Homo sapiens: one gene and its partners. The protein of the gene in region 3 purifies or fractionates together with the protein of the main gene of each other region. This does not show direct contact. Each region holds a gene or a part of one and is shown on either strand. Other genes may lie near its edges.

Evidence for each region. The genes of interacting proteins can lie anywhere in the genome.
Region 1: the proteins of RPUSD3 (region 3) and ANXA1 purify together in Homo sapiens (affinity purification with mass spectrometry; 2 studies listed by BioGRID and IntAct, with this or other methods). This does not show direct contact.
Region 2: the proteins of RPUSD3 (region 3) and YARS2 purify together in Homo sapiens (affinity purification with mass spectrometry; 2 studies listed by BioGRID and IntAct, with this or other methods). This does not show direct contact.

The regions. Positions count from the first base shown.
Region 1 is NC_000009.12:73,161,145-73,168,864, reverse strand, and holds part of ANXA1 (annexin A1), read right to left. Parts: intron 6,084-7,720; coding exon 6,004-6,083; intron 5,390-6,003; coding exon 5,333-5,389; intron 3,750-5,332; coding exon 3,656-3,749; intron 2,769-3,655; coding exon 2,673-2,768; intron 1,369-2,672; coding exon 1,310-1,368; intron 1-1,309. UniProt on the Homo sapiens protein: Plays important roles in the innate immune response as effector of glucocorticoid-mediated responses and regulator of the inflammatory process. Has anti-inflammatory activity.
Region 2 is NC_000012.12:32,752,898-32,761,453, forward strand, and holds the start of YARS2 (tyrosine--tRNA ligase, mitochondrial precursor), read right to left. Parts: upstream 3,001-8,556; 5' UTR 2,978-3,000; coding exon 2,199-2,977; intron 1,189-2,198; coding exon 1,021-1,188; intron 1-1,020. UniProt on the Homo sapiens protein: Catalyzes the attachment of tyrosine to tRNA(Tyr) in a two-step reaction: tyrosine is first activated by ATP to form Tyr-AMP and then transferred to the acceptor end of tRNA(Tyr).
Region 3 is NC_000003.12:9,836,671-9,841,770, forward strand, and holds the end of RPUSD3 (mitochondrial mRNA pseudouridine synthase RPUSD3), read right to left. Parts: intron 4,136-5,100; coding exon 4,028-4,135; intron 3,947-4,027; coding exon 3,862-3,946; intron 3,666-3,861; coding exon of another isoform or gene 3,638-3,665; coding exon 3,514-3,637; intron 2,502-3,513; coding exon 2,362-2,501; intron 1,538-2,361; coding exon 1,346-1,537; 3' UTR 1,179-1,345; downstream 1-1,178. UniProt on the Homo sapiens protein: Catalyzes uridine to pseudouridine isomerization (pseudouridylation) of specific mitochondrial mRNAs (mt-mRNAs), a post-transcriptional modification necessary for their translation.

The DNA.
Region 1 (7,720 bases), on a different chromosome or scaffold from region 3:
TGAAATGAAAATAAATAATCCTCTACATTAGCGGTAGGTATAGAGAGCTGTCACAACTTCCTAACTCATCTCTCACCATCCGGTCTCTACACTGTCCAATAATTACAAAAAAAGGGAACTTCTAAACTGCAAATCTAATAAACTAGTCTATCTATTTAAAACACTGTCAGTGATCTTCTGTTGCTCTTAGGATAGAATCTAATCAGGGCTTCCGATATCCTGCCTAATTCTTTTTCAAGGCTTACAATATCCTGCCTAATTCTACCATCTCTTCCAGTGTGCACCATCACTCTATACTTACTGTCTTGAGAAGGTTATGTTACCTTTTGCCTTCAAGCCTGTGTGTGGGTTACTTCTTCCTCTTGGACCACCCTTGCTTTATCCCCATCTCTTCCACTCTTGCCCTCATCTGGCTCATTTCTATTTAAACTTCAGGTGTTAATTTAGCTGACAGCAATGCTACCTGGATTTCCAAAGTCTGGAGTATATGTCCCACTTTTCTCTTCCATGGCACCAGGTATTCATCATTACCCAACGAAATATCACACTAGACTATGGCAGAAAGGGGGCAGCAACTATGCTAACCACTACAGAGCAGTACCTAGCATGTCTATCATTTCATATTATTCAAATTATTCATATATATTCAAAATATTCCTTCATATTATTCAAATAGTTAGATCTTTCTTTCTCTCTCTCTCTGAAAACCTCCTTATTTTGGAGCTGCAAAGAAAAAAGGAAGATAACTTCATAACTATTCATTTGTGGGCTCAAAATGTCAGAATAGAAGAGGTACCTTGTATAATACCATGCATGTCAGACAGTAAAGTTAAAGTGACATAGTTGATCTCAAATACATCATTCTACATCCTTAATCATAGAATGACATTTCAAAAGTTTCAACTATTAATCTGTGGCATAAAAGACAGAATAATAAAAACAACAAATCAGACTCATAAAGTGGGAGATTATAAAACTCACAACCTTAGAGGAAGTAGGCCACTAAAATTACACGTTAAAAAAGAAAGTACATCACCCTTCCCGTGGTGACACATGTTTTAAGCAAATCACAAGTGAGCCGTAAATCACTTACAGGCTCACTTTACAATCTCATCTGTAAAAAAAAGCACCGAATCTAACAGAAGTTTATTCTGAGAAGGTAGTGTATTACCTCTTTCATCAAATAGAACAATGATTCTCATTAATGGGAAGATATTAAATGTGAGATTTTCAAACAACATGAGGTTTTCTGTTCTTTCTACAAATAATTCTTCCTCTAAGCAGGACATATAAGTAGAATGGTACATACTTTCATGGCTTGATGAAGCTTCTCTGCAAAGAAAGCTGGTTTGCTTGTGGCGCACTTCACTGTTAGAGAAGAAAATTTTAGTTGATGTATTTACCATGAAAAAAATGAAATATCCATATGAAAGAAACAGGAAATATAGAATTTTGCCAACAGTGTTCTATCCCTCATCATCATTCTTCACCTCTCATCTCCCAATATAGGGCAGTTAACTTCTGAGAAGGTATTTGTGACTCTCTAGATGGTGGTTTTGAATATTCTTTTCCCTGACGATCAATTTTTTTATTACCTTAAATACATCTCAAGAGCAACTTCAGTAGTTTGCGCTATCCAACATATATTCTCCTTGGGAGTGGAGAAGCCACTAGGTGTTCAAGCCTATGTAAATACTTTATTTATGTTACTATAAGAACATTTAAAAAGAACACCCTATGAACAACAGACACTGCAGACTACTAGAGAGGGCAGGGAGAGAAGGGGCATTGGTCAAAAAACTACTTATTGGGTACTATGCTCACTGCCTGAGTGCAGAACACCCATGGAACAAACGTGCACATGTACCTCTGTGTCTAAAGTAAGAGTTGCACAAACAAATAAGTAAAAATAAATGAATAAATGAAGAAAAAACTCTGGGATAGGATGGGCTTAAATATAAAACAGAACCCAAATAATACTAGCACATTCCAGTTCATAGTGTTCTTCATCTTGTCGAGATCTATGGACCAACAGCATTGGCATCAATGGGGAGCTTGTTAGAAAAGCAGAATCTAAGCTCCACCCCAGACCTGGGGAATCAGAATCTGCATTTTAACAAGCTTTCCAGGGGATTCAAGTGCATAGTCATGAATGAGAAACACTGCTTGAGAACATAGGTTCCCCAACCCTGATGGTTGTCTGAATAACCTGGGAGATCTTTAAAAAGTACCGATTTTTAGAGGCCAACTCGGACCCACTGAATCAGACTCTCCTGGACCTGCCCAAGATTGTACAATTAACAAGCAGTAGACCAGGACTTGAAGTTACATTTATCCAGATGTTACATTTATTCCAGATCCCATGCTCTCAGTGACCATTCTGAATTGCCTCTGTGGTGTGCCCAGCCTGGTACATTGTTTGATATAAGTAGGTGCTCAATAAGTATAGTCTATCTCTCTCTATTTTTGAAAAGGGGAATAATATCTATTGTTATTAAGGTTATAGTACTTTGCCAATCTTTTACGTTGCTTCAATTGAAACAGATGCACTACTTCTGATTGTTTTTTGTTTTCTTTTATTGGTTTTGTTGCTGTTGTTCTTGTTAAGTATAGGATAGCTTTGAAAATACAATTTCTAGTTAGAAAACTCTTTCAACTGCTGGACTACATACCGATAGCTGTGAGGCATTTCTCAATGTCACCTTTCAACTCCAGGTCCAGAACTTTGTTCATGTCATGCTTACTGTACTTGGTGTATTTCTGAAACACTGAATATTAAATTCAAACTAAGATACATGCAAAACATCCTTTTCTTTAGAAAGCTTTAGCAAAATCAAGGCAACTGACTCAAAGAATTTTTTAGAATAACAACTTTGGCTACACCTTTTAAAGCAATATACCCAATTAATCATAACGTGAATACTTCATCCTCTCCTAGGAATGTAACTTACCTGGCCATTTTGGTATTCCTATATATTTTGGCGAAATGTTTGCAAATGTTGACAGTTATTAGAAACGGCATGTGATTGACAACTATAGCACTTCCTACAGCAGTTCTAAGAGCCACAGCAAATGGATCTTCCCTTATATAAAGACCTGTGCACTAAATTTCTCTTACATTTAACAGTAGAAATCAGTATACTATTATAAGATGGTGAACTTTGGTAATTGTCATAACTTTTCCATCGCCTTCACTTCCAAGAGGCCCAGAGCTAAATCTTGCACTCAAAGGCCAGGACTTTTTCTGAGTTTTGTCTTGTTGTTGTTTTTCCAAAGCACCTACATATTTCTTTCTTCATTTAGCTCTGAGGGTTTTTTGTTTTTTTTTTTTTGTTTTTCTTCATTCTAATTTCATTTGTTCTGTTATGCATGTCTTTTCCCACACATATTCCAAATCTTTTAGGGGAGTAAAAGCAGTGAAAATAACAAAATTATGTTCCACATGCCCAAGTCACAAAATGTATTAAATATGATAAAGTAGCGGCTGTACAAAATTGGACAAATTGACAAATAACAATGGGTCAGGAACACTGTATCTGTTTGATACAGGAGTGATATTGAAAAAGGGTTCTGTTTTTACTTTCTCTTATTTGTCATCAAAAAAGAAAATTGCATCTTCCATAAACAGATTCCAGAAAAAGAAATTTATTGTTACCTCTGCGAAGTTGTGGATAGCTTCTGGTGGTAAGGATGGTATTGAACACGTTTACGTCTGTCCCCTTTCTCCTTTCTCCTGCTTCATACAAGGCCTGTCAAGAAACACAAAAGTAAACACTTCACTATCTGCTGAAATGATATCTGCACAATAATGTTAGACCTTGTCAAAGATTATATAGGCAATCGCTTTGTGCCCAATACAATCAGAGTAGTCAACAATAAGATTGCAAGTTCTTTAAAGATAGGGACCTTATTTTGTTTGTCAAATATCTTCCACAGTTTCTCTCAAGGTGCCTTGTAAACACTAGAGTCTGAATATATGTTTGCAGAATAAATGTTTGCTGAACTAAATTGCTTTAAGATTATGCTCTATAGTAAGACAACTCCAAGGGGATCTCTAAAGATTTTTTACTCTGTGTTGTTCAAAGTAATTATCAGCAAATGTTACTTATAAATCAATAATTCAACCGTAACCTGGACCTTGCATTTTGATGTTAGAATTTCTGTATTCAAATTCTGACTCTGCAATTTCAAAGCTGCATAATCTTAGACAAATAGATCAACCTTACTAAATGACAGATTTTTTTCTTTTATATATGAAAAATATAATCCCTGCCCTATTGTCACAAGCGGTCTTTATTAACTTTGAAATGTTGACTACCATCATTCTCTTGGGTCACACTAATCCATGTAACCTCCATAAATATATATTAAGAACCCTGATAGTCTTAAAATGGAAAGCAAATTCAGAAATGTCAAAAGCAAATAAGAATTTTTTATTATGGGCAATTATTCAAATGCTAACTCTTGTTCCTTAATATGCTTGAACAATTTCTATTAAAATGATAAAACCTTCAATGTATGTAAAAATTATTTTGCATTTTTCAAGCAAATTGATCTGATATGTATGCATTTGTTGAACAAAAAGTTCATGAGTGCCTATTATGTACATGATAATGTACTGGTATAGCAGAAGTGGATGGGGGTGCACAAAGAAATCTCTATCCTTAGTGAAGCACTGTAATGAATTCTCTAGAGAATACTGTTCCATGAGAAGGCATAATGCAAATATTAGTTGTTTGTTTGTTTTAAATGGAAATTCCAGGCTTTAAAATGATATGATTTTTCTTATGTTGCCAGTGGTTTGGCATATAAATAATCAGCAATGTCACTGAAACTAAATAAAACAATATGTTAGAAAGCATATATTATTATAATTTATCCTATACTCTTGTTATATCATTGCAGTAATATTTTGACAATATAAATTGACATCTATAAACCATTCCAAAGTTCTCTGTTAAAAATAACGTTAAATATGCTTACTCTTTCCATTGCACATAATAAAAAAATTACATTTCCCCTTCTTATACCTAGTACAACGAAAGGTCAGAGTTTTTTTTAACAAACAATTCTTGGGAATGACAAATCAAATTTGTATTGTCCTTCTTCAGTTCTCTCTGGTTTTACGAATAATGAGAGATATTGAAAACTTACAAAGACTACTTTTTTGTGTGTGGGGGCTACAGAAAGACATGCCTCATTCAGGAAATGAACATTAAGAAGCCATTGGTCTCTCAGAAGATCTTAGATTTGCTTTCACAGGGGATCATGTGGTAGCCCCACTTAAGGTAGGAAGATGAACTGCAGCAGTATTTTGTAAGCACTTCCTTACCCTGGCATCTGAATCAGCCAAGTCTTCATTCACACCAAAGTCCTCAGATCGGTCACCCTGAAAGAAATCCCATTCTATTGTAAGCTCTTCTCTAGCATGTAATTGCATGATTTACTTAATTATCTTAAACTCAGATAAATAATATTTTTTGAGAAAAAGGTATTCTATTACTCATTTCTAGAAGGAGCTCAGATACAAGATTTTACTTGCGATGGTTTTAGATGTTCTTCCCCTCCAAACCTCATGTTGAAATTTGATCCCCAGTGTTAAAGGTGGGGCCTAGAGGGAGGTATTTGGGTCCTGGGGCTGATCTCTCATGAAGAGATTAATGCCGTCACTGGGAATGAGTTCTTGCTCATGAGAACCACGAGAGCTGGTTGTTAACGAGGCTGGCACCTCCCCATTCTCTCTCTTGCTTCCTTTCTTGCCATGTGGTCTCTGCACACACCAGCTCCCTTTCCTCTTCTGTCAGGAGTGGAAGCAGCCTGAGGCTCTCACCAGACATAGATACCCAAACTTGAATTTGTTAGCCATCAGAATCCTGAGCCAAATAAACCTTTTTATCTTTAAAAATTACCTAGCCTCAGATATTCCCTTATAGCAACACAAAATGGACTAAGAAATTAGTCTTTATAAAACAAGAGGCATTTCCTAAAGTATCTGAGTTGTACCTTAGCAAGAGAAAGCAAAGCGTTCCGAAAATCTCCAGATGTGTCTGAGGTTATGTCTTTGGCCAGATCTCTCTTCAGTTCTGAGAAAAAAGAAAAATAGATTTTATAGTAAACCAGTGATGAATAATAATAAGAATATCTGACATCTCTAAGTTGGTTGAAAATTCACAGTGCCACAGTGTTCAATGACTTATGGAACATGTTGCAAAATATTATCATTTTTAAATAAGAAGAGAAAAATTAAAGCAGGTAAATTTTTGGATCATTGAATTTATTTCATATGAAGCAATGGGAGCAATTTAGATAATACTGTGATTGAAAACTCACAGTCATAAAGCTTTCGTTAAGAATAAATTGTATAGGTATACATTAGTAATTAATTCTGAAATACAACATGGCAGAATTTAAGCAATAGAATGAATAAAATAATTGTTTAAAAGAACAAAATGAGGTACTTGCTTGAATGCAAATTATTTATTTAGTTTAAAAACTATAAATGTCTTATAAGTAATGCAGTTTGATGATTTATGTGTGTGTAAACACTTCTGCTTAACTACATAAAATAATACTGTAATAGGAAAAAATAATTGAATTTATAATTGACTAGTGCTATGGTTTTCATATTGTTTGTTTGGCCCTGCCAAGTCTCATGTTGCAATTTATTCTCCACTGTTGAAGGTGGGGCCTGTTGGGAGATGTTTGGATGATGGGGGCAGATCCCTCATGAATGGCTCGGAGTGAGTTCTCATTCATAGTTTCTTTAAGAACTGGCTGTTGAAAAGAGCCTGGCACCTCCTTTTCTCTCTCTCCCTCTCTGCACACATCTGCTTCTGTCTGCTTTCTGCCATGAGTAGAAGTAGTATGAGGCCCTCATCAAAAGCAGACGCTGGTCCCATACTACTTGTACAGTATTTCCTTTCTTTTTACATTACTTGGTCTCAGATATTTCTTTATAGCAACACAAACGGACTAAAACAACTTGAAACTGGGCAATGTAATAAACTATCACTGGCCTATATCTTGGCCATATGAAAAATATATAAACACTTATTTTTATAAACTATGTTTTATCAAACAAAAATAATCATCATTATTACCACTGACACATGGATCTAACATAAACATTGGTAATTAAATAAGAATTGCAGAAAATGAGGTTTAAAAGCTTCCTTATTTTTATTCTTTTATTAAATTCCTCTGAAAATGATATGCAAAAGCTATTGTATTCTCCATGCTTGGTATGAGAATCAAGCAGAAAGATCTTCTATATGCCATATATTGCATTGGGAAAGCCAAAAAGCCAGCAGCTCAGGGAAATGAGAGTAGGAAAATGGTAAGAGACTTGCAATTACCCTCTTTTCAGTGTTGAGCACATCATTTAAATGAGATGCTTCACTGGAGAGATAAAATAAGCTAAGACTAGTCTTTTATTCTGTGAATTTAACTAGAGATAAAGTGAGTCTCTTATGTTCATAACGATAAAGTTAAGGTTTCCAACAGAGAATTATAAGCACCTAATTCTTTACTTTTTCAAGGACAAATGAAAAACATTTTGTTAGGAGATTTTTTTGTTATTATATATTCTTTTCAAAAAAAATGACCTTGGGACATTTTTATAAAATACATTCCAGAATAATAGAAAAGTGTTTTTCAGAAATTTTTAAAAATTCAATGCTCTGAATTGAGGTTTCCATTATAATCGTATGTGGCCATTTAT
Region 2 (8,556 bases), on a different chromosome or scaffold from region 3:
AAAACATCTTGGCCAATCTTAGCCCTTTTTATTTCTATGTCAGTGTTACAATGAGCTTGTCAAGTTCCACAAAAAGCCGGTTTAGATATGGTTGGCACTGTACTAAATGTAGATCAAATCCAGAACTGGTATCTTGGCCGGGTGCGGGGGCTCATGCTGTAATCCCAGCACTTTGGGAGTCTGAGGCAGGTTTATCGCTTGAGTCCAGGAGTCTGAGACCAGCCTGGGGAACAAGGTGAAACTCCACCATTACTAAAAAAAAAATACAAAATTAGCTGGGCATGGTGGTGTGCACCTGAGCCTGGGAATTTCAGGCTACAGTGAGCCAAGACTGCGTCACTACACTCTAGCCTGGGCAATGGGAGTGAGATTCTGTTTCAAAAAATACAAAAAAGAACTGATATTATTTTTGTACTATGAATATGGTCTAACTCTCCATTTATGTAGGTCTTTATTTTGCTCAATAGCATCTTTTAATATTTTGCAGGAAAGTCATATACCTTTTAAGTCTTAAAGAATTATTCCTAGATTACTTTGATGTTACAGAGCATCAAAATATTTTTTTCACTTTTTGTTGCAGGTATATTTGTTTCTCATTAATTCATATTCTTCCAAGAGTTTAAGGCAATTTGATTTAAGGAGAAATCATTTCTTAAGAGGATCTTTAAAGTCATATTTGTGAGAGAAGAGAGACAAAGGAAAAATAAGGGTAGTCAAGGTTAAGTTGAAAGGAGTGAAAAAACTAGAATATGCAGGTGATAAAATCCTAAGAACTTGCTAGATACAGATCAAAAAGTTGGCTCTACATTTTCTAGCCACCCACTGTTTTTCTGCTTTAACCAACAAAGTGTTTAACTTTAGAACACAGTAAAAATTAGTCTTCTATGATGTAATGGTTTATGTACAGACAGAAACTACGTTAAAAACAAAAAAACTATAAAATGTACATAGATTCAATGGCTAAAATTACATCATGAGTTTATGGTGTCAGTTTTTCTCAGCCCATTATTCAGAACTCACCTTTCCACTGAATCGTCCGGTTGCCTGACAAAGAATTGATACAATTCAAATGGAGATGTCTTATCTCTGTTTAGCCAAACAGCGTTGCCAGCAGACTTTCCCAGCTTTGCTCCAGTTGTACTTGTAATTAGAGGAACGGTGATTCCAAATACATCTTCTCCAGTCAACCTACGCATAAAGAACAATTTCATTATGTGCCTCAAGCACAAGTGGTGGTAGGTTCTACTGTTCACCTTCCAGATTTCTTTCTGGTTACTTGCTCCAGGAAAACTTCCTTGACCTCCTAAATCTGAATTCTTGTTCCTCTTATGTATTGTTACAGTACTTACTCTATTCATTCTGAACCTCATGAGTGGTTCCAGGCAGGTTCTAGGCAGGCCAAGGGGAAGTGCTACATAACAATGGACTAGAGATTTTGAAAGGCTGAGTGGGAAGGAGAAAACTGGGTGAAGGGGTGTCAGGAAGAGACACTAAAGGAAATCTTCTAAACGCCTTTTAAACATGTGCTTTGCTCTGTTGCACATGAGCTAGCCCTATCCTTCACCTCTCTCAAGAAAATGCTATTAGACCCGCATTACTTGTCAATTATTTGGAGTTGAAAAAACTTTTTGAGATACCAACCAAGGACTAACACTAGTTTCATGGAGGGTGCAGAGCTAAAGCAGAGGCTAGCTACTCAAGGAGGCCCAGTCACGTTCTGGTATAAACACACAAAAGCAGTTTCTCTAATTAGAGAGGACGACTTAGGCGAAGCAAAACAGACCGACCAAATCTTCACTAGTGGTCTGTTTCCCTTTTTTTTTTTTTTTTTTTTGAGACGGAGTCTCCCTCTGTTGCCCCAGGCTGGAGTGCAGTGGCGCGATCTCGGCTCACTGAAACCTTCGCCTCCCGGGTTCAAGAGATTCTCCTGCCTCAGCCTCCCGAATAGCTGGGATTACAGGCGTGCATCACCACGCCCAGCTAATTTTTAGAATACACCGTTTACTCTTAATACCCTTAATTCAGCCCTTTAATTCTTATTAGCCAGTGTTATTAACGCCATTATAGAGCCTTAATGGGGATAAAACCAACAAGAGCTGGAACGAAGGGCAGCAACTACAATCCTAAGAGTGAATCACAGGCTACTAGTGTGTAAATTATTTGGTCCCAGGATTTCCCCAAGGTTTAAAGGCACTTACTTGTTGATGAACTCATATCCGGACATGATGTTGCCTAGTTGATCAGATCCGCCCAGCTGGACCCTGCATCCATAACGCTGGAAGAGGTAATAGAAGTCATAGGCCTGGAGCACCTGGTAAAAGAACTCGGCCAAGCTCATGCCCTCGGGGCTCTTGAGCCGCAGCTGCACGCTCTGCCGGCTCAGCAGCGTCCCCATGCGGAAGTGACCCCCCACTGCCGCCAGGAAGTCCACCAGGTGCTGCTTCTGGTACCAGGCCGAGTTGTCCAGCACAGTGAAGCTGCCCCAGGAGCGCCCATCAGTGAAAAGCTGCTGGTGATTAGCCGCCAGGGCCTCAAGCCCTAGGCGCAGAGCTCGCGCGTTGGCTCGCACGCGCTCTGTCTCCAGCGCCTCGCGTTCCTTGGTACGGCCGCTCGGGTCTCCCAGGCGCGCCGTGGCGCCTCCCACCAGCGCGATCACGTTGTGGCCCGCTCGCTGCAAATGAAACAGGCCCAGCAGCGCAAGTAGATGACCCACATGAAGCGAGTCTGCCGTGGGGTCGAAGCCACAGTAAATGGTTTGGGGAAAACTCGCCGTGCCACGGTCGAAGAGCTCTGGGAGCTCTATTTTCGTCCCCGTCTCCGGGAAGAAGTCCTTGAACAGACCTCGAGCCTTCTGCGCTGCCAGTAACCCCTGAGCGCCCGAGTGGGCCTTACGCAGCCCCAAGGGCAACAATACTGAGAGATTTAGGGTACCAGACCACCGGCCCCAGGAAAAGGACCGCAAGATGGGCGCCGCCATCTTGGTAGCGGCACGAAGGGAATGCTGGGATTGCAGAGGCTCCCACCACACCCACCTACTTACAGCTCCTAGGGAAGGTGCTTCAGTGTTTTTCTGCGCATGCCCGAGACGGTTACGTAGTTACGGAGCTTGCGCTCTCAGCAGTTGAGTCCCGACTCCAAGTGGCGATTCCGCCTCAGAGCCGTCGCCTTACGTTCCCTTAAACTTAATTTTTCCATCAGCAGTGTGGATCTGCTTATGATAGTTCCTACCTCATAAGGCTGTTGTGAGCCTTAAAAATTAAAGCATTTGGCACATAACGCTTCACAAATGCTAACTTGTATTTACATTTTCACGTAAAAAGATTGTGATGCGCAAGTTCTTTGAAGTCTTGGTTCCATGCAAAAAGCTGTTCACAGAGGTTGAGAAAGGTTAGGAATTGGTTTAAGTTCGCGGAGAGATAGGGAGTTGCTGCTGAGACGCAAGCAATTTCATAGTACCGATTCCCTAATTGCACCTCGTCCCCAGTATTCATCGGCTCTTCCAGGAGGTGGCAGTCTTGTCCAAGGTATAGCAAGAAAAACTCAGTGCAATAAAGTACATGCATCAAGTCCTGTGGTTTATTTATTTTAAATACAGTTAACTAGGTTGGGACACAGCTTAGCATGAGTGGATTCAAGTTAGTAATCACATCGTGCAGCGTGACAGGTGCTCTGAATACTGACCAGGGATGAGGTTCTTATTGGCAGCTGGCTGGCAGGTGATCTAGCTTCAAAATCCCATGTTAGAGCCTGATTTCTAGGACCGCTTTCAAAATCGTCTTAGGTAGAATTCCCTGGACTCTGAGTTGGGGGGGAGACTGGTTTGCAGGAGGGTAATTGGAGTGTGCTCTTAAGAACAACACCTATAATGGAGTGAGGGAGGCCGGGTTGGGCGGAGGGAGAAAGAAGTTGAACTGTGAACAATTTGTAATAGAGGCCTCAGGCAATCCAGTAAGGGCTCTGGAGCCGGGATTTCCTTTCAGAGTCATCCTGAATTGAGGCCAGGGGGCAGACCTTTAGACCCTCTTACTGACTGCTCATTAAATGTGGGATGTTTCTGGGGAGGAAGCAAAACGCTGGGTTAAGGCTTTTGGAGAGTGAGATGTGCAGGAAGGGACTCAGCTGTGAGCAATAAGCAACCAACACTCCCAGCAGCTGGGGGATTGAGTGCCTTGGTCCTGTGACTGGGATCTGGGCCATGTTCCAAATCATTCCCTACAGGACTTTTCCATTTTTTAACGTTATAAAGTTATCTAACAAAATGAAAACTTATTTTAATAATTAGTTTCTTTGCATGTATAATTATCAGTGAATTAGTTTCTCATTGCCAAATAGTAACTTCAATAGGATTTTGAGATACTCATTCAATAGGCTATTAAACATACTCCCAACTGCTTAAGAAAATAGTGTGTTCAAAATATCTTAAAATTTGCAATCATAACCTGTTGATCTTCAGTGTTTTTTTTTTTTTTAAGTGTCACTCTGTTGTCCACACTGGAGTGCCGTGGCAGGATCATGGTTCACTGCAGCCTTGAACTCCTAGGCTCCAGCGATCTTCCTGCCTCAGCCTCCCAAGTAGCTGGAGCTACAGGTGTGGACTACCATGCCTGGCTAATTTTTATTTTTTGTTTTTGTAGAGACGGGGGTCTCACTGTATTGCCCAGGGTGGTCCTAAACTCCTGGCCTCAAGCAAGCTTCCCACCTCTGCCTCCCAAAGTGTTGGGATTACAGGCATGAGCTACTTCGCAAGGCCAATCTGCAGTCATATGGTCCACCACTTTGATCAGGGACAGATTTCAGTAGGTATGGCAGGAAATTCTCCTGAGCACACGTAAGGAAACTCACATCTGGGCCACTTGTCACTTGAAAGCCAAAAACCCAAGAGAAGAGCTGTAGTGAAAGTAAAGTTAGCTTTATTCAAGAGACCAGCAACCCTGGGGGATGCAGTGAGCTAGCGTTCAAAGACCACCTCTGGTTTTTAAGGGCAATTAAGAGAAAGGATGATAAAAAGATTTTTGTGAAACGTGTGCAGTCTCAGGTCGGCAGTAAATCATTGCTTTCTTGGTCAATATTTTGTGGCTTTCTGCAGGTACCATCAGCCTATTCTTATTAGGTCGGTCAGCCCATTCACAGAGAGGCTGATCTAGGTATTTTCTTTTATCTCTGTTCAAGATCCTGTTTTTCTGAGGCTGATTTTAGTGAATGATCTACAAAATCAAGCAAAGTAATAATTGTATTCAAGTAAGCAAGCTTTCTTCTAACATGGAATCAGTACTGTCACACACACAGCAAATGGTGCTTTCTATTTAGTACCTTAATACATAGGGCACACATGTGTTTCTGGTGACACACAACTCTCTGGCTTTTACAGGTGTGTTAGTAATTTGAAAATCCTACTTGTTACAACAGTATGCCAGGGTTACTTGATGTCAGGGTTACTTGATGACCTGTGCTTAATGGAGAAGAATTTTGTGGATAATGAGAAATAGAAAATTTCTACCTGGGATTACAATTTATTATAAAGTCTTTTAAAAATAGATTTGAGCTCTGCTTTGTCTCTTAAGTTTAGTTGCATCTCATGAAGAGGCAGCAAAGTCTGATATAGAAGGTGGTGTCGGGCCGGGTGCGGTGGCTCACGCCTGTAATCCCAGCACTTTGGGAGGCTGAGGTGAGCGGATCACTTGAGGTTGGGAGTTTGAGACCAGCCTGACCAACATGGAGAAACCCCATCTCTAATAAAAATACAAAATTAGCCGGGCATGGTGGCGCATGCCTGTAATCCCAGCTACTTGGGAGGCTGAGGCAGGAGCATTGCTTGCACCCACGAGGTGGAGGTTGCAGTGAGCCGAGATCATGCCATTGCACTCCAGCCTGGGCAACGAAAGCCAAACTCCGTCTCAAAAAAAAAAAAAAAAAAAGAAGGTGGTGTCACAGGAGGTGCTAGATGAGACTTGACAGTAGCTTAATGACAGTAACAAGCAACAAGTTTGGAAAATACAGTGAGATCAATTACTCTCTTTTTATAATTTGTGTTGGTATTATAGGGGAAATTGGGCTTTGTCCCAAAGACAGGAGCAATAAAGAAGATGGGACTTTCAAACCTTTGGAATTATATCCGTGGCTAAAATTTTATGGGATTGCACCCATGGTTTGCATTTGGGTTACAAAAAAGTGACCAAGTTAATTCTTGCTGTTTTTATTGGCTTAAAAAGTGAGTGAACAAGGGTTAAAAAGTATTTTTAAAAATATGATTTATCTCAACTGTAATAACTTGAGGTTAACTGGCCTTGAATTAGAGGCACATGTGTTTTACAGTTACCTTTTCCTGCAACAAAATGCCACATAAATGTTCTCTTTGAAGGGATCCCTGTTTTAAATGGCTTGGTTTTCAAAATGTAAACAAATATAAATATAATAGAATTCAAAAGACACAGAGTAAACAGTAATGGTATTTTAACTGATCTCTACTTAACTTTGAAAATTTCTCTATCTCTAGCATTGTATTAAATATATATTCAGATTACAGCAGAGATCTGATTAGGGCTGAAATATGAGCTGCTCGAACATCACAGCAAAATGACAGCAGAAAGAAGTCTGAGGAATTCTGATCATTATAATCACTATAAAATATAATTCTTATTTGTGTTTTCTGTTTTTTTTTCCTTGGAGAAGATTATTGGTGACATCAGATGCAAAAGGGAGTGGATAGGAACAAGAAATAGAAATTGTAAACCTATAATTGTAAACCTACGTAACCATGCCCGGTTACGGCCGGGCATGGTGGCTCACGCTTGTAATCCCAGCACTTTGGGAGGCTGAGGCGGGCAGATCACCTGAGGTCAGGAGTTTGAGACCAGCCTGACAAACATGGTGAAACTCCCGTCTCAACCAAAAATACAAAAATTAGCCAGACGTGGTGGCGGGCGTCTGTAATCCCAGCTACTCAGGAGGCTGAGGCAGGAGAATCACTTAAACCTGGGAGGCGGAGGTTGCAGTGAGCCGACATAGCACCACTGCACTCCAGCCTGGGCAACAGAGTGAGACAACATCTCAAAAAAAAAAAAAAGAAAGAAAAGAAAAAGAAATTGTAGGTTATTGCAGAAAGGCCATGGCTTTTCTTCCAGTTGAAGTATTTCCATGGCTTTTCTTCCAGTTGAAGTATTTCCATGACATTCCTATCTCCTATTACTTGGGAAGAATCATTTCTAAAGATTGATTTCATGTCTTTGTTGTCTTTGTATAATAATTTATAACTCAATCTGCCTCATAATTACATCTTCTCACACATGACTTTCATGTTGCTGTTTTTCTTGAAACCTACATCTAAAGTCCTAAAGATCCTCCCACTCTGCCCATCCTTACCTGCAAGGCAGTTGCTCCCCTTTCATTCCAAACTAATTTCTTTCAGGAAGCTCCTCTGCATTAGGTAGGGCGAAGGAAGGATGCTTTTACTGTCCAGGTTCATCATGCCCCTAAAATGTATTAAAATGTAAAATCAATAATGCTTACCCTTCCCACACAAAAAAATGGAAAGACCATTAAGTTCTATTAAAATTTATAGAAATTTATGTGAGCTAAGTGTCTTGAAACCTAGTCTGTGTCCCTTGATTGAAGTGGCTTTAATGCTTTTTGAGCTGATGGTCATATTAACATCCAAAAATTTTTTATAAGAGATTAGCTTATTTTAAGATGCTGATTGTAGGAGGATAATTAGACAAAGAAACATGTTACTAGATATGCATTTCCTTTCTATATTAGAGTTTAGAGAAGGATACCCCAAGTTTCTTTCTTTCTTTCTTTTAGGCTGCTGTTGTAGCCAGTGGAATAACCTGGAGGTCTCAGCATTGCCTTAACTTTATGCACCTGGTCCCATACCATATGGCTGGATAATGTTTTGAGATATTTATGGGTTTAAAAATCTTTCATTTTCCAGGCCGGGTGCGGTGGCTCACGCCTGTAATCCCAGCACTTTGGGAGGCCGAGGTGGGCAGATCACGAGGTCAGGAGTTCGAGACCAGCCTGGCCAACATAGTGAAAACCCGTCTCTTCCAAAAATACAAAAATTAGCCAGGTGTGGTGGCACACGCCTGTAGTCCCATCTACTCAGGAGGCTGAGGCGGGAGAGTCGCTTGAACCCGGAAGGCAGAGGTTGCAGTGAGCTGAGACCACGCCATTGCACTCCAGCCTGGGTGACAGAGTGAGACTCCGTCTCAAAAAAACAAAGAAATAAAAAATCTTTCATTTTCCTCTCTTCATTTTAACTGTCCATTTGTAGCAAGTTCTGTGTGTCAGTGCCTTGGGGAAAGTACAAGTCGGGGAGGAATACAGAGTCATCCTGGAACTCTTTGTAACTTTTGTTTCCAAAAGTCAAAAGCCTAAGATAGGATGAAGTTTAAGGAAATAAGCTTAGAGAAGAGAAAGAGGTAGGATTCTCCAGCTTAAAGAGAGTGCCCCTGCCCCAAACCTGGGCAAGGGAGCCCTGGCTATGGCCCTGGTTTGCCAGAGGAGCTGTGCATTGCTCCCTGGCCTCAAAGGGACGACCTCCTGCTACACTTCCAG
Region 3 (5,100 bases):
TGGGCGACAGACTGAGACTCTGTCTCAAAAAAAAAAAAAAAAAGGAAAGATAAGGCTGAGGCAGGAGGGTTGCTTGAGTCCAGGAGTTGGAGGGTAGCCTGCTTGGGCAACATACTGAGACCCTGCTTTAAAAACAGAGATTCAAAAACAAAACAACAACAAAAACATTAGCCAGGTGTGGCGGCACGTGCCTGTAATCCCAGCAGGAGAATCGCTTGAACCTAGGAGGCAGAGGTTGCAGTGAGTAGAGCTCACACCACTGCACTCCAGCCTGGGAAACAGAGTGAGACTCTGTCTCAAAAAAAAGATAAGGAGGCTGAAGCGGGAGGGTTGCTTGAGGCCAGGAGTTGGAGGGTAGCCTGCCTGGGCAACATACTGAGACCCTGCTTTAAAAAATATAATAGAGTAAGAAGGCTGGGTGCAGTGGCTCATGCCTGTAATCCCAGCACATTGGCGGGGGGTGGGTGCCAAAACAGGTGGATTGCTTGAGGCCAGGAGACCAGCCTAGTCAACATAGCAAGACCCCATCTCAATTGTTTTTTTTTTTTTTTTTTGAGACAAGGTTTCACTCTCACCCAGGCTGGAGTGCAGTGGCAAGATCTCGGCTCACTACAATATCTGCTTCCTGAGCTCAGATCATCCTCCCACCTCAGCCTCCCAAGTAGCTGGGACTACAGGCACATGCCACCACACCTGGCTAATTTTTTTTTGCATATTTTGTAGAGACAGGGTTTTGCCATGTTGCCCAGGCTGGTCTTGAAATCCTGGGCTCAAGTGATCCACCCACCTCAGCCTCCCAAAGTGCTGGGATTACAGGTATGAGCCACTGAGCCCAGCCACCATCTCTACAAATTTTTTTTTTTTTTTGAGACGGAGTCTTGCTCGGTTGCCTAGGCAGTGGGTGTGATCTTGGCTCACTGCAACCTCCACCTCCCAGGTTCACTGCCTCAGCCTCCTGAGTAGCTGGAACTACAGGCGCGTACCACCACACCCAACTAATTTTTGTACTTTTTGTAGAGACGGGGTTTCACCATGTTGGCCAGGCTAGTCTCGAATTCCTGTCCTCGTGATCCGCCCACCTTGGCCTCCCAAAGTGCTGGGATTACAGGCACAACTCAGCAGTAAGCAAGATCCGTAATAAACATTTACTTTCTTAGCAAATCCTCAAAACCATAACATGAGGTAGGAACTTTTATTATCACAAGTCCAGAGAGGTAAAGTTACTTGCCCAATGCCACACAGCAAGCAAGTGGCCTGTCCAGGATGTGATCTTAGGTTTGTCTGACTGCAGAGCCCCCACCCTCACTTTCCAGTGTGTGTGAGGGGGTCAGGAACAGAGGGAGGACTATTGTAAGCGGAGCCCCAGGCACTGTAGGGTCCTGGAGAAATAAGGGGGCAGTGGTGCCAGGAGCTCAACAGGGGTGTCCCTGGCCCTGGTGCCTGGGAGAAGGAGCCGATGTAGGTGGAGGTGCAAGGGCAGCTGGGCAGCCTGGGAGGGGGTCAGGTGGAGGCGTCTGAGGAGGGCTTCATCCAGGACCTGGAGCGGGAGAGGTACGTTGTGTTCAGCCCCACATTTTCCAAGCAGCTGAGTACCCAGCTCTAAGGGAAATGGGAGTAAGGCGGGCGCTTCCTCCATTCCCCACTGTTCTGCAACTGTTAATCATTTCCTCTTTGCACACAGATGTGCACATTCACACAGGCACTCACACTGCAGCAGAGACTGGCTAGGGGGTCACCCAATCAGTTTCCTCCTAGGCACACACCTCAACTCCATTTCCCAGCCCTCTCACAGCTTGGTGAGACGTGAGTGAGCTCTAGCTGAGTGAATGTGGGTGGCAGTATGTATGCCACTTCCACACCTGGCCCAGAAAAACCTTATCCACTTGAACCTACACTGTCTCCCCTCATCTGGCTGGGTATCAACAGCCTGGGTCCCTGAGTACTTAGTGCTTGAAGCAGAGCCCACTCCCATTATTTGACCTTAACATGAGGGCACAGTTCTTGTGTGAAGACTCTGGTAGTCTGGGCTTAGTGTGTTAGAGCAGGTAGAGGCATCTGGTGTCCTAATACACGCATGCCTTTGACCCTTTGTACCAGACTCAAAGAATGGCAGACTTAAGAGGGCTTTAGAAATTAGCCACATCAACTCCCTTATTGAACACATGGACAGAATGAAGCCCAAGAGAGTGAGTGTTACTTGCCCAAGGCCACACACCAAGATGTGGGTACGGATACAGCCTTGGGAGCCAAAAGGGCTGCCTCCCAGTAGTCCCAAGCTGCACAGATAAGGTCTGGAGATGCTGCCCATGCTCACCTCTCCCTCCACCCCTCAGAAAGCAGCAGGCAGGTGGGCTGGAGTACCTGTCTTTGGGGCTTGTTGTTCTCAGCTGGCAGCAGAAATCGCTGGCCCAGGACAGTGCCCACACGGGCAGAGTACATGTGGTCCCCAAGCACAGGGCAGAGCTGTAGTACCATGTGCACCTGTAGTTGACTGGAGAACACTGGGCAACAGGAAAGCCAGGAGAGACAGTGGGCAGCTACTCGTTCTGTGCCACCCAGTATCACTCCTCCCCTTTTCCTTTGGGGAAACACCACCCCCTTTCTCAGATCATATGTTTCAGTGAGGTCAGTACTATGGCCCCTGCATCCAGAGAGGGACACATAACACGTCAGGACGATCACAGCTATCAATCTGCCTGGCTGTGGGATCCACTCATGATGAGATGCAACCCTGATTTAATTGCTGAAGCCACCGGGCCTAAGGACTGTTCTTTCCTGTTGGGGTGCTAGCCTGAAGCTGCCTCCTCTAGCTGGGCCTGGTCACATACACCTCTGGGGGCCATCAAATGCTCCCCAGGCTGCTGCTGATACCACTGTCTCCCCAGCTCCTTGCCTCCCTAAGCCAAGTGCAGTTTTTTTTTTTTTTAGCCAGCGTTTCACTCTGTCTCCCAGGCTGGAGTGCAATGGTGTGATCTTCGCTCACTGCAACCTCTGTCTCCCAGGTTCAAGCGATTCTCCCGCCTCAGCCTCCCAAGTAGCTAGGATTACAGGTGCGTGCCACCAACTCCAGCTAATTTTTGTATTTTTAGTAGAGACAGGGTTTCACCATGTTAGCCTGGCTGGTTTCGAACTCCTGACCTCAAGTGATCCATCCGCCTTGGCCTCCCAAAGTGCTGGGATTACAGGCGTGAGCCACCGCGCCTGGCTCAAGTGCAGTTTTTTTTTTTTTTAGATGAAGTCTCCTCTATCACCTAGACTGGAGTGCAGTGGCATGATCTTGGCTCATTGCAACTTCTGCCTCCCAGGTTCAAGCGATTCTCCTGCCTCAGCCTCCCGAGTAGCTGGTTTTACAGGCGCCTGCCACCGTGCCCAGCTAATTTTTGTAGTTTTTAGTTGAAACAGGGTTTCACCATCTTGGCCAGACTGGTCTTGAACTCCTGACCTCGTGATCCACCTGCCTCAGCCTCCCAAATCAAGTGCAGTTTTAAAGGCTGGCTAGGGTGCCAGACCTACCTGTCAGTGGCTGCAGCTGGACCAGGGCACAGCCAGAGCCTGTGGCTACCACACGAAAGTGACTGAGAGTCTTCTTGACACCTTCCAGGATGTCCTTTCGGGATGGGGCCTTCACTGGAACTGTCTGTGGTGCCAGCCAAGAGTGAACAAGCCTTACACAGGTCTGGGAGCTATACCCAGACCCTCCCTGCTCCCAATAGACTCCGGGCAGGGCCACAGTATAGGCAGTGGTCACTTGCCTGTTTTAGGGGACAGGAGAGCCAGCCATCCCAAATCCATACCCCTGACTCCTCTCTGTAGGGGTACTATATCTAGAAGCACCCCTCCTCTTCCCAGACCCGGACTCACGAGATTGACCCCATCAATGTGTTCCAGTTTCAGGGCAGCCTGGATCTTCCCCTCAGAAGCAGCTGGGATCCCATCAGTGACAGCACTGAGAAAGGGGCAGGAGGAGGTCACAGGGTGGCTTGCTGGGACCTCCCCACCACTCTAGGAACCTCCCAGCACCTCTCACCAGTAGGTGGCTGTGGGCCTTTGGGCTCTCCGTGCATGGGTGAAGTACTTCTGGAGGCGACTAGCTGTCTGGGGACAGCTGGAGAGGAGTACAAGCCCAGAGCTTTCTCTGGAATAAGCAGACAAATCACACAAGTTAAAGTCCCTTGAACTCGCCCACTAAAAAGGAAACTCTTAGGAACACTGACCTGCTTCAGGCCAAACACTAACACCAGGACTATAACCTAGACCAACTCCTGAGAAACAAGTAAGGTTTCCCCTTCTTTGATAACAAGACTATGTAGCTTAATGTGTTTCTCATTTTGCCCCGGCCCCCAGGGAACTCAGAGCCAAATGTCGTAACGATTGTCTACCATGTGCCAGAATTCTACTAGAAATTCTGTACATATTAGCTCTTAAATAAGTTCTCTACAAAAAAGCTCATGAGTTTGTGGAACTGCAGAAATATTTCATCTCAAGTACCATCTTTAATTGATGGCAGTTAGAGGAAAGAGTATCATGGATCGACTAGCAATGCCTGCCACGAGTACCGTCATGGAGAAATGACTGCACACTGAGCATAGGTATTATTTTCTCTATTTTACCATTAGGGGAACTGAAGCTCAGGGAGGGTATTTGTTTTGTTTTGTTTTTTTGAGACGGGGTCTCATTCAGGTTGTTTAGGCTTGCGTACAGTGGCGGGATCTCAGCTTATTGCAGCTGCCATCTTCTGAGCTCAGGTGATTCTCCCATCTCAGCCACCCGAGCACTACAGGCATGTGCTGCTCTGCCCAGCTAGGTTTTTGTGTGTGTGTGTGTGTGTGTTTTATTTTGTTTTTTAAGTAAAGATAGGGTTTTGCCATGTTGCCCAGGCTGGTCTTGAACTTCTGGACTCAAGCAATCCTCCCACCTCGGCCTCCCAAAGTCCTATTGATTATAGGCATGAGCCACCACGCGGAAAGTTTTGTTGTTGTTTTTCCAGAGATGGGGTCTATTTTGCCCAGGCTGGTCTCGAACTCCTGGGCTCAAGTGATCCTCTTGCCTTGGCCTCCAGAAGTGTTGGGATTACAGGTGTGAGTCACTGTGCCCAGCGTC